Linked DNA regions of Homo sapiens: region 1 is linked to region 2. Evidence: fine-mapped expression QTL. A gene starts in region 2. The other region holds a variant in brackets. All regions are shown on one strand. Distances are between the middles of the regions. Region 1 has its middle 20 kb from the start of PRRT4. Region 2 holds the start of IMPDH1 (inosine monophosphate dehydrogenase 1).

The links. PIP is the estimated chance that this variant, and not a neighbour inherited with it, causes the effect. A credible set is the group of variants that fine-mapping cannot tell apart.
Region 1: its variant is the best candidate, but not a certain one, in a credible set for the expression of IMPDH1 in unexposed skin (GTEx, PIP 0.78).

Annotation. Positions count from the first base shown.
Region 1 is chr7:128,379,006-128,383,383 of GRCh38, forward strand. No RefSeq gene overlaps it. Among named protein-coding and RNA genes, the nearest start is that of PRRT4, 20 kb to the left of the region's middle. The variant T/C (reference allele first, on the strand shown) is at 2,570.
Region 2 is chr7:128,407,983-128,412,358 of GRCh38, forward strand. It overlaps IMPDH1 (inosine monophosphate dehydrogenase 1), which reads right to left and starts at 2,000. Exons shown (of 17, transcript NM_000883.4): 1 at 1,774-2,000; 2 at 1,459-1,502; 3 at 1,307-1,370. The coding sequence starts at 1,919. RefSeq lists a silencer at 1,527-2,146 and an enhancer at 2,417-2,656.

The DNA.
Region 1 (4,378 bases), 29 kb before region 2:
TGAGAGTAGAGTTTGTTTTGAGTCTGGGAGTCAGAGCGAAGGGAAGGCAGAGGGGAAGGACCACGGCAGGGATGTCAAGAAAAGACAGGCCTGGAATGAGGACACGACAGGTCTGGAATGAGGGCACCTCAGCCCAGCTCTCTGGGGCTGCCCCCTCCCAGGCAGGCCAGAACACCTTTCCCAGCACCCACAGGGCCAGGTCCCGCTCTCTCCCAAGAGAAATGAAGAAAACTGGAGGTGAACAAGAAGCAGAGTGGTGAGGGGGGCGGCTTGAGGAATAGAGCCTGGAACCCAGGAGCCCTCCTGGCTCTGGTCCCTGGCCTTCTCCCCTCCTGCCCTGTATTCTAGGACTGGAGAATGGGAACAGGCCAGCAGAGGGGCCCTCCAGTGGGTACCTGATTTTTTTTTTTTTTTTTTTTTTTGAGACAGGGTCTCCCTCTGTAGCCCAGGCTAGAGTGGTGCAGTGGTAAGATCTCTGATTACTGCAACCTCTGCCTCCCGAGTTCAAGTGGTTCTCGTGCCTCAGCCTCGCAAGTAGCTGGGACAGCAGGCATGTGCCACCACACCCAGCTAATTTTTGTGTTTTTAGTAGAGACGGGGTTTCACCATGTTGGCCCAGCCGGTCTCAAACTCCTGACCTCAAGTGATCCGCCTATCTCAGCCTCCCCAAGTGCTGGGATTATAGGCATGAGCCACCGTGCCCAGCCCTGGGTGCCTGTTTTTCATCCCTTTGTGTCTGTAGCTCTTGGGGATCAGGAGTAGGTAGGGCAAGGGTCAGGGAAGTCTGCTGCACACATTACTTTGTAATGACAAAAAACAAGTCTTTTCATCTTTGGATAAGGATGACTGCTCCCAAGGCCTGCTTTGCTGGTCTCTATCTCCTTCTTTCTTCAGCCCTTAGGCTTAACTCAATCTTACTGTTTCCCAATGTAACAGATTTCTCATTTGCAAAATTGGGATAATAATTGTCTCTCCCTCCTAGAGTTACTGCCACCATTAAATGAATCAATATACACAGAGTGCTTTAAACAGTGCCCGGCACATAGAAATGCTGTCTGAGTGTTTGCTACTATTCTTACTACAGGACTAGGATTCCAAGGAGTGAAAGATGAAGCCGCTGGGTGCAGCGGAGGGGGTGGAGAAATCTGGGTCAGTGAACAGGAGAGACTGGTAGTGGGGGACACCAGGACAGGGCCGGGGGCAAGGAAGAGATGCAAGCGGCCAGGAGAGGAGTCTTACCAGTGGCTGGGCCACAAGGTGTACTCTCACCAGCAGGTAAAGAGGTGAGGGGGCTGGCAGCTGGGAGGAGCTATGCACCATCTGCAAGACTGATCTATTTTGTAGGGCAAAGTAGGCCCCAGGGCCGACTGTCCTTGTTCTCCTGTCACTGTGAAAAGGCACACAACTTGCCCACTTAGAGCAGAGTCCCCCACTCCTGCCCCTCCCACCCTGCCAAAGACCCCTGGACCACCCAAGCACAGGGTAAGGGGGATGGGGTGGTAGGTCAATGTCAGCACTGGGGGCTTGGATCCAAGCCCCTTCTCCTGCACCAACACCAAAGTAGGAACAAACCTCAGTGAGGCTTTGGCTTTTGACAGCCTGAAGGCTTTCCACAGGTGCCAGGCGAACTCAGCTGTTTCTTGCATCAGAAGAGTGGAGACCTCCTGCCTGTGACCCCCTCCCCTCCCAGGTCATGATCCCTCAGGTCCTCAGAGAACAGAGGAGCAGCTGAGGGGCCTGTGGCAGGGGGAGGACCACAACAAAGCCACCAGGTCAGCACCCACATAAGGCCTAGTCAGGGTGTCGATGCATAAAGGAAGACACCTTATGCTCCCTCTGGAGCCCCAGTACAGGCCCCCAGCTCACCTCTGCAGGCCTCTCCACTCCCTGCAGCCAAGAGCTGGGAAGGAACCTCATGGCAATCTCTGGCTCCTCCTCTCAGCCCTCCTCCCTGTCTCCTCTGAGATCTGAGGCCTTCGTGATGTAAGTGGCAGGACTGCTAAATGGCAATGTTGGTGCTGGGGCCACTTAACTCCCTGACCTGTGAGAGAGCCTGTCTGGGCAGGGAGGCTGGGGGCAGGGGCTGGTGGGGGACATGCTCTGTGCCTGGGGCTGCTGGGGGAGAAGAGAGGAGCCCTTCCGAAGCCCTCCATTCCTTTTCTCTCTCCCCTGGCCCCCCGGCCCTCTCCTGGGTATTGGGTGGGCTGCTGGATATCTGGAGTGCAGGCTATGCGTGCAAACAGCTTGTGGTCTGCATGTTTCTGCGCTCCCCACCCCACCACAAGCCGAGCCCTGATCATGTGGCCTGTAGGGGGCGCTAGTGGAACCCTTTCTGAGACCTGCCTAGGAATGAGGGCTTGGGTGAAGGGGACACACCCGAAATACTAGTGCCTCCAGCTATTGGGGCAGATTGCTCAAAACACACTTCCTGTTTTACAAGGTGTAATAAGTCATTCATCGAACTCCACCCCAAATTCTGAAATCCTAATAAAGTGTCTGGATCAGCCTTCCCTGGCAATGGAGAGAGCTGTGTTCCAGTTCTGCATTGGCACAGCTGCGAAGGCCGCTC[T/C]ACCCTCCTTCTTCCAGGCGGGGTCACTGCTGGTTGATAGGCGAGTGAAGTCATGTCTTTGAGGGCCAAGGGCAGGAAAAGCTGGGAGGGCGGAGACCACAGAGACGCAGGGCTGGCAGAAGCATGGAAGGTGACGAGGAAGCCCAGCGGAGGAGTGCTCACTTCATCCCGGCGCCCTGAGCAAGGCCATTCCCGGCCCCCGAGGGACCAGACCCTGCCAGGGAAAGGAGAGTGGGCAGCAACTCCCCCCACCCCCCGCCAGGCCCTCACAGCCAGTGCCAGGGGGTGAAGCTGGTGGGGGGAAAGTGGAGAATGACATATTGTGGGAGCTCCAAAGACACAAATCATTGAACGAATGCAGAGGAGAAAGGGACAGAAGTAGGCCCAGGTCCTCTAGGTCCTCGTATTCAAAGTGTGGCCATGGACCAGCAGCACCGGATGCTTGTTAGAAAAGCAGACTCTTGGCTGGGTGCGGTGGCTCATGCCTGTAATCCCAGCACTATGGGAGGCCATGGTGGGTGGATCACTTGAGGTCAAGAGTTCAAGACTAGCCTGGCCAACATGGTGAAACCCCCGTCTCTACCAAAAATACAAATTAGTCAGGCGTGGTGGCAAGTGCCTATAATTCCAGCTACTTGGGAGGCTGAGGCAGGAGAATCACTTGCACCTGGGAGGTGAAGTTAGTGAGCTGAGATCGCGCCACTGCACTCCAGCCTGGGTGACAGAGCAAGACTCCAACTCAAAAAAAAAAAAGAAAAAGAAAGAAAGAAAGAGAGAGAAAAAGAAAGAAAGAAAGAAAGAGAAAAGAAAGAAAAAAGAAAGAAAGAGAAAGAAAGAAAGAAAGAAAGAAAGAAAGAAAGAAAGAAAGAAAGAAAAAAAGAAAGAAAAGCAGACTCTTGCCCCCTACCCCTGCAATCTGCATTTCAGCAAGGGGCCGCCTGCCTCACAGACAGATGTGAGCAATCTAGAGGAGACAGCAGGGTTGCACTGCCATCCCCACCCATGTCCCTGCACATATTCAGCTGCCTTGGTGACCTGCCTTGGCTTAAGGTGGCCCAGAAAGTTCCCCTGCCTTCTGGCCAGACAGATCTGAGTGGGTCCTTCTGGAATGCACAACAGGTGCGGAGTGGGGGCAGCATGGAGCAGCCTCTCATCTCACTCCCTCTCCACCGTCCCCCGCCTCATCCCCTGGTGCTGAGTGAGCCCTGGTGACAGGCAGGCTCAGAGAAGGGAGCCCAGGAAAGGGAGGATCAGGGGCAGCCCAGAACGGGGTTATCTTGATCCTTGGAGGTGGAGCTTCCGCTGAAAATCTGGTGGAAGTTCTGCTCCCTCTGCCAGAAAAATGGACAGACACACAATGTTGCAAATATGGCAGGGGAATCATAGATCCTCCAGAGCCCACTTGTCCCACAGCCCACAAAATCCTCTGTTTCCTTCTACTCTGATGGTGCCTGAGTGCCTCCTCCTCCACTCCCCATGCCAGGGCTCCTCTGCCTCAGGGAGCTTGTAGGCCAGACCAAGATGCAAACCCAAGGGAAGCAAGCCAAAGCAGAGGGTCCATGGGGGAGCTCCAGGAGGGAGGGGTTTATTTCCAATCTGGGAGGCAACCTAGAGATTGCAACAAGGCCACAGGCTTTGGAGTCACCTAGGCTTGTCATCTGTACTGTGGGGATCCATGCTGCCCACAAGGATAGCATGAGATCATGGTAACGTGTTCAGAACTACTTCCTCTAGTTAGGGAAGAGGTCGCCATCCTAGCTAGGTGTGACCCCCACAAAGATGTCCATAATGCAGGACCTGTGAATGTGT
Region 2 (4,376 bases):
GCCCTGGGTTAGGCTGTGCTTTTCCAGAGACTCCGCTAATCCACCCTCAACCCCCACTCTCATACACCCTCTTCCTGATCTTCCCCAGCTGCTTCCTCCATGGGGAGGAGACACCGAGGCAACCAGTCGGCCTCCGAAGCCGAGGAAGGGCTGTTGTTCCCTGAGACCCCCACCTAGCAGCTGTGGGGATAGGAAGGCAGGTCCAAGCCCCTTCCTCAGGGTAGCAGGGCAACAGTGCCCAGCTGGGTACTGAGGTCCAGGCAGGGAACCCCGAGGGCTCTATCAGGCCTGGGGCTATTTGAAGGAACAAGATTTCAAAACACTCTTGAGGGGAAGATGGGGGAAGGGCAGAAAAGGTAGTAACATTAGCACTGTTGAGCTGGGTCGGGGGCATAGCCTGTCCAAGTTCAAGCCAGAGAGCAATAACACTGGATTCAAACCCAGGACTGCTCACAGAATCCTGTCCTCTTCCCACAGCTCCAGGTTGGCGAAGGCAGGTGGAGGTCTGGCCAGCAGGTTTTGAATCTCACTACACCACCTGGCTGGGGCTCAGGTTTACACAGGCTCCCTGAGCCCAAGTGGGGGGTGCGGGTCGGTTGGGGGTGGGGGTAGGGATGGCCCCTTGATGCAGAAGTGCAATCTGGAGAAAGGATGCACTCACATGGCTCCGGCCTGAGCTCTGAAACATTATGTTTGCAACCCCTACTCTAACCAAGCACTGCCTCTGTCAAGCCCCAACCGGCTCATTCAGCCCCTGTGGCCCCTCCCTATCGCCCTGCGGCCTGAACCCCAGGAGCTGGATTTCTAGGACAGGAGAAAGGCTGGGAGTTGCCTAAGCCTGAGTCAATTCTAGAGAGGCAGCCTGCCAGGACAGGGGGGCCTAACTCAGCAGCCCCACTGCCGAGGAGCCCCTTAAGCCGTTAAAAGTTCTTACATAAGCGGCCAACCCCTGGGCAGAGCTGCCGGGCTAATTCCCCCAGACCACCCCCATCTAACCCAGCTGCCAGGTCACCTCCCCAAGCTGCTGAACACCAGCAGATGGGCAGAGAAAGAAGTCCAAATCCTCTGGACCGGAAGGACAGTGGGATTGCATTTCAAGCTGCGATACAATCCAGAGATTAGCTGCTGTCTCCTTTTCAGCCAGTCCCCCTGGGGCCCAGCTCACTACCCTACTCTTCCTCCAGTGTCCCTCATTCCCCTACAGACCCCAGCATGGGGGCCTGCGTCTTCGGAGAGACCTTGAGGTGAGCTGCACTGGCAGCCTCTCAGATCTCAGTGCATGGTGAGGAGGGGAGAGTGTCCTCACCTAGCCCTGCGAAGGCGATCCATCTGGACACCAACACCTGCCAGTAAGACCACTGAAGATAGTTCTAGGAGGAAACAGCTAAGGAGGGGTAAGCCAAGTCAGTCGGACAGGACTCCAGCAAGCACTGTTTGAACCCCAGGAGTTGGAGCCACCTGAACGGGGTGTCGTCGGGTGTGTAGCGAGGTCCAATCTAGGGCTAAGATTTTAGGGAAGGTTTTTACGACCTGTTCCCTCTCCTCCGCTCCCCCGTGCAACGAAGCACCTAACCCTTCGCACAGTGCCCGTCTGCATCCCCCAACCAAAGCCGGGAGCGTGGCGTTTCGGGAAGTTAGAGGCTGAGGCGGTAATAGGGGAAGGGTTTGTGGGGCCTGCCCCTCCCCCGCAGCGTCGCCGGGTTCCCGGAGCCGCCGCGCCCTCCTCGGCCGCCCGCCCCGGATGCGCCCCGCGCGCTCTGCCCTGGGCGTCACCTCTCGGGCTCGTAGCCGGCCTGCAGCAGTCGGGCGCTGTACCGCTGCGCCGCCGTCTCGTGTCCCGGGTGTTGCCGGGCTCCGGGCTCCGGAACAGCGGCGGCTCCGCCTCCCTGCAGCGGTGGTGGAGTGAGTGGCCCCTCCATGCGGAGGCCGCAGCTCAGGGCGGGCGGGAGCCTGGAGGCTCCCGGGGCCCCGGCTGGGCAGTGAGCGCAGCCCGGTCGAGTCCCGAGGAGGGGCGGGGCCGCCGGGGCGGGGCCTCGTGCCGGGGGCGGGGCAGGGGAATCCGGGAGTCGACTGGGCTCCGCCCTGGGCTCCCCGCTCTCCCCGGCGCTGCTACGCAGATGCCTAGACTCGGTTCGTCTCTCCCATCCCAGATTCAGCGAGGGTACATCGGGGGATGAGGGGGAGAGGTGTCCCTACACGGGTGGGACTGGAAAGAACCCCGTCCCCTTCCCTGCCGTCCGGACCTTCCAGTGTCTCCTGGCCCCTTCCGAGGAAAACCAGAAGAGGAAAGGAGCTGGACTCCAGAGGCAGGGCTTCTCCTTGCGTCTCAGGTCCGCTCCTCTCTTGCACGCCGACGATGCCAGGTCCCCTGGAGCGCCTCATACCCGCAGACCGCAGACCTCCCGCGCTGGGGCGAGAGAGTCGTGCTCAGCCGACTCCACGTTAGAGAGCGGGGAGAGGGATCTCCACAGCCTGTAATCTGCCAGGGAACGAACAGAACAGACAAGGCTGCGGGCTCCTTAAGGAACAGGACCTAGTCTTGCCTCGTTGTGGAGGTACTTTACCTTGTTATGTTACCCCGTAACAAGGGAGTGGGGCAGAGCAGTGTACTCAAACTTGTTTGTCCACTTACTAGAAGGCGCACTTTTTCCTACTGTTATCATTGTGAACGGTGATTGAACACCTAGCAAAAATGGCAAAGAAATGTAAGAGTCCTTGCCCTCAGGCAATTTATTTCAGGAGACAAAGTAGATGAAAATAAACAGCTGATAATTCTCATGCCATATACAGATGGTCCTCGACTTACAATGGTTGACTTAAGATTTTTCAACCTTACAGATGGATTTACCCTGAGGTAGCCCCATCTTTAAGTCGAGAAGAATCTGGAAATTTTATTTTATTTTATTTTATGTTATGTTATTTATTTTTTATTTTATTTGAGACGGAGTCTCGCTCTGTCGCCCAGGCTGGAGTGCAGTGGCGCGATCTCGGCTCACTGCAAGCTCCGCCTCCCGGGTTCACGCCATTCTCCTGGCGCAGCCTCCAGAGTAGCTGGGACTACAGGCGCCCGCCACCACGCCCAGCTAATTTTTTGTATTTTTAGTACAGACGGGGTTTCACCGTGTTAGCCAGGATGGTCTCGATCTTCTGACCTTGTGATCCGCCCGCCTCGGCCTCCCAAAATGCTGGGATTACAGGCGTGAGCCACCGCGCCCGGCGCATCTGGACTTTTGTCTGACAAGTCTGAGGGAACAAATGGTAAACACTGCGTGATTGAGGAGTGCTAAGATGTATTAGGGGTCAGACTTTCAGCAACGATTTCACAAAGGAAGCTGAATTTATGCAACAGTAAGATCTTGGACTTTATCCTTCATCGTGCCTCTTCCTATGCACATACACACCCACTCCCCAGAATCAGGATTCTTTTTTTATTTAAGTTTTTTAAAATTTAGGTTGGGCGCAGTGGCTTATGCCTGTAATCTCAACACTTCGGGAGGCTGAGGCGGTCAGATCACCTGAGGTCAGGAGTTCCAGACCAGCCTGGCCAACATGGCGAAACTCCATGTCTACTAAAAAATACAAAATTAGGCTGGGCACGGTGGCTCACACCTGTAATCCCAGCACTTTGGGAGGCTGAGGCTGACGGATCACGAGGTCAAGAGACTGAGACCATCCTGGCCAACATGGTGAAACCTTGTCTCTACTAAAAACACAAAAATTAGCTGGGCATGGTGGTGTGCGCCTGTAGTCCCAGCGACTTGGGAGGCTGAGGCAGGAGAATCGCTTGAACCCGGGGGGCGGAGATTGCAGTGAGCCGAGATCGCACACTGCACTCCAGCCTGGTGACAGAGTGAGACTCTGTCTCCAAAAAAAAAAAAAAATTGCCAGCTATGTTGGTGCACGCCTGTAGTCCCAGCTACTCAGGAGGCTGAGGCATGAGAATAGCTTGAACCCGGGAGGCCGAGGTTTGCACTGAAGCGAGATCGGGCCACTGCACTCTAGCCTGGATGACAGAGTGAGACTGTCTCAACAACAACAAAAAAGCTAAAATTAATTCATTGATTATATTCAGTGTCCTCTGGTACTTTGTATTCTGTCCCTTTTTTGGTGAGGGGCCCAATAGATTGTGGACTCACCATTTAAAAAATACTACCCTAAAGCCAAAGGTTTCTGTTTGGAAATAAGCAGATAAGGTACCCATATGTGTTTATAAAGACTCTGAAGGAGAAACTAGTCAAAACCAATCAATTACTCAACAGATGAAACTTAGAACTAGCTATAGCCTAAAATTTAAAGGACTGTCTGTAAACATGTTAAACTGCGGAGAAAACCCAAATCCAAATAAAGTTACCAGGACAGTAAGAATGACATGAAAG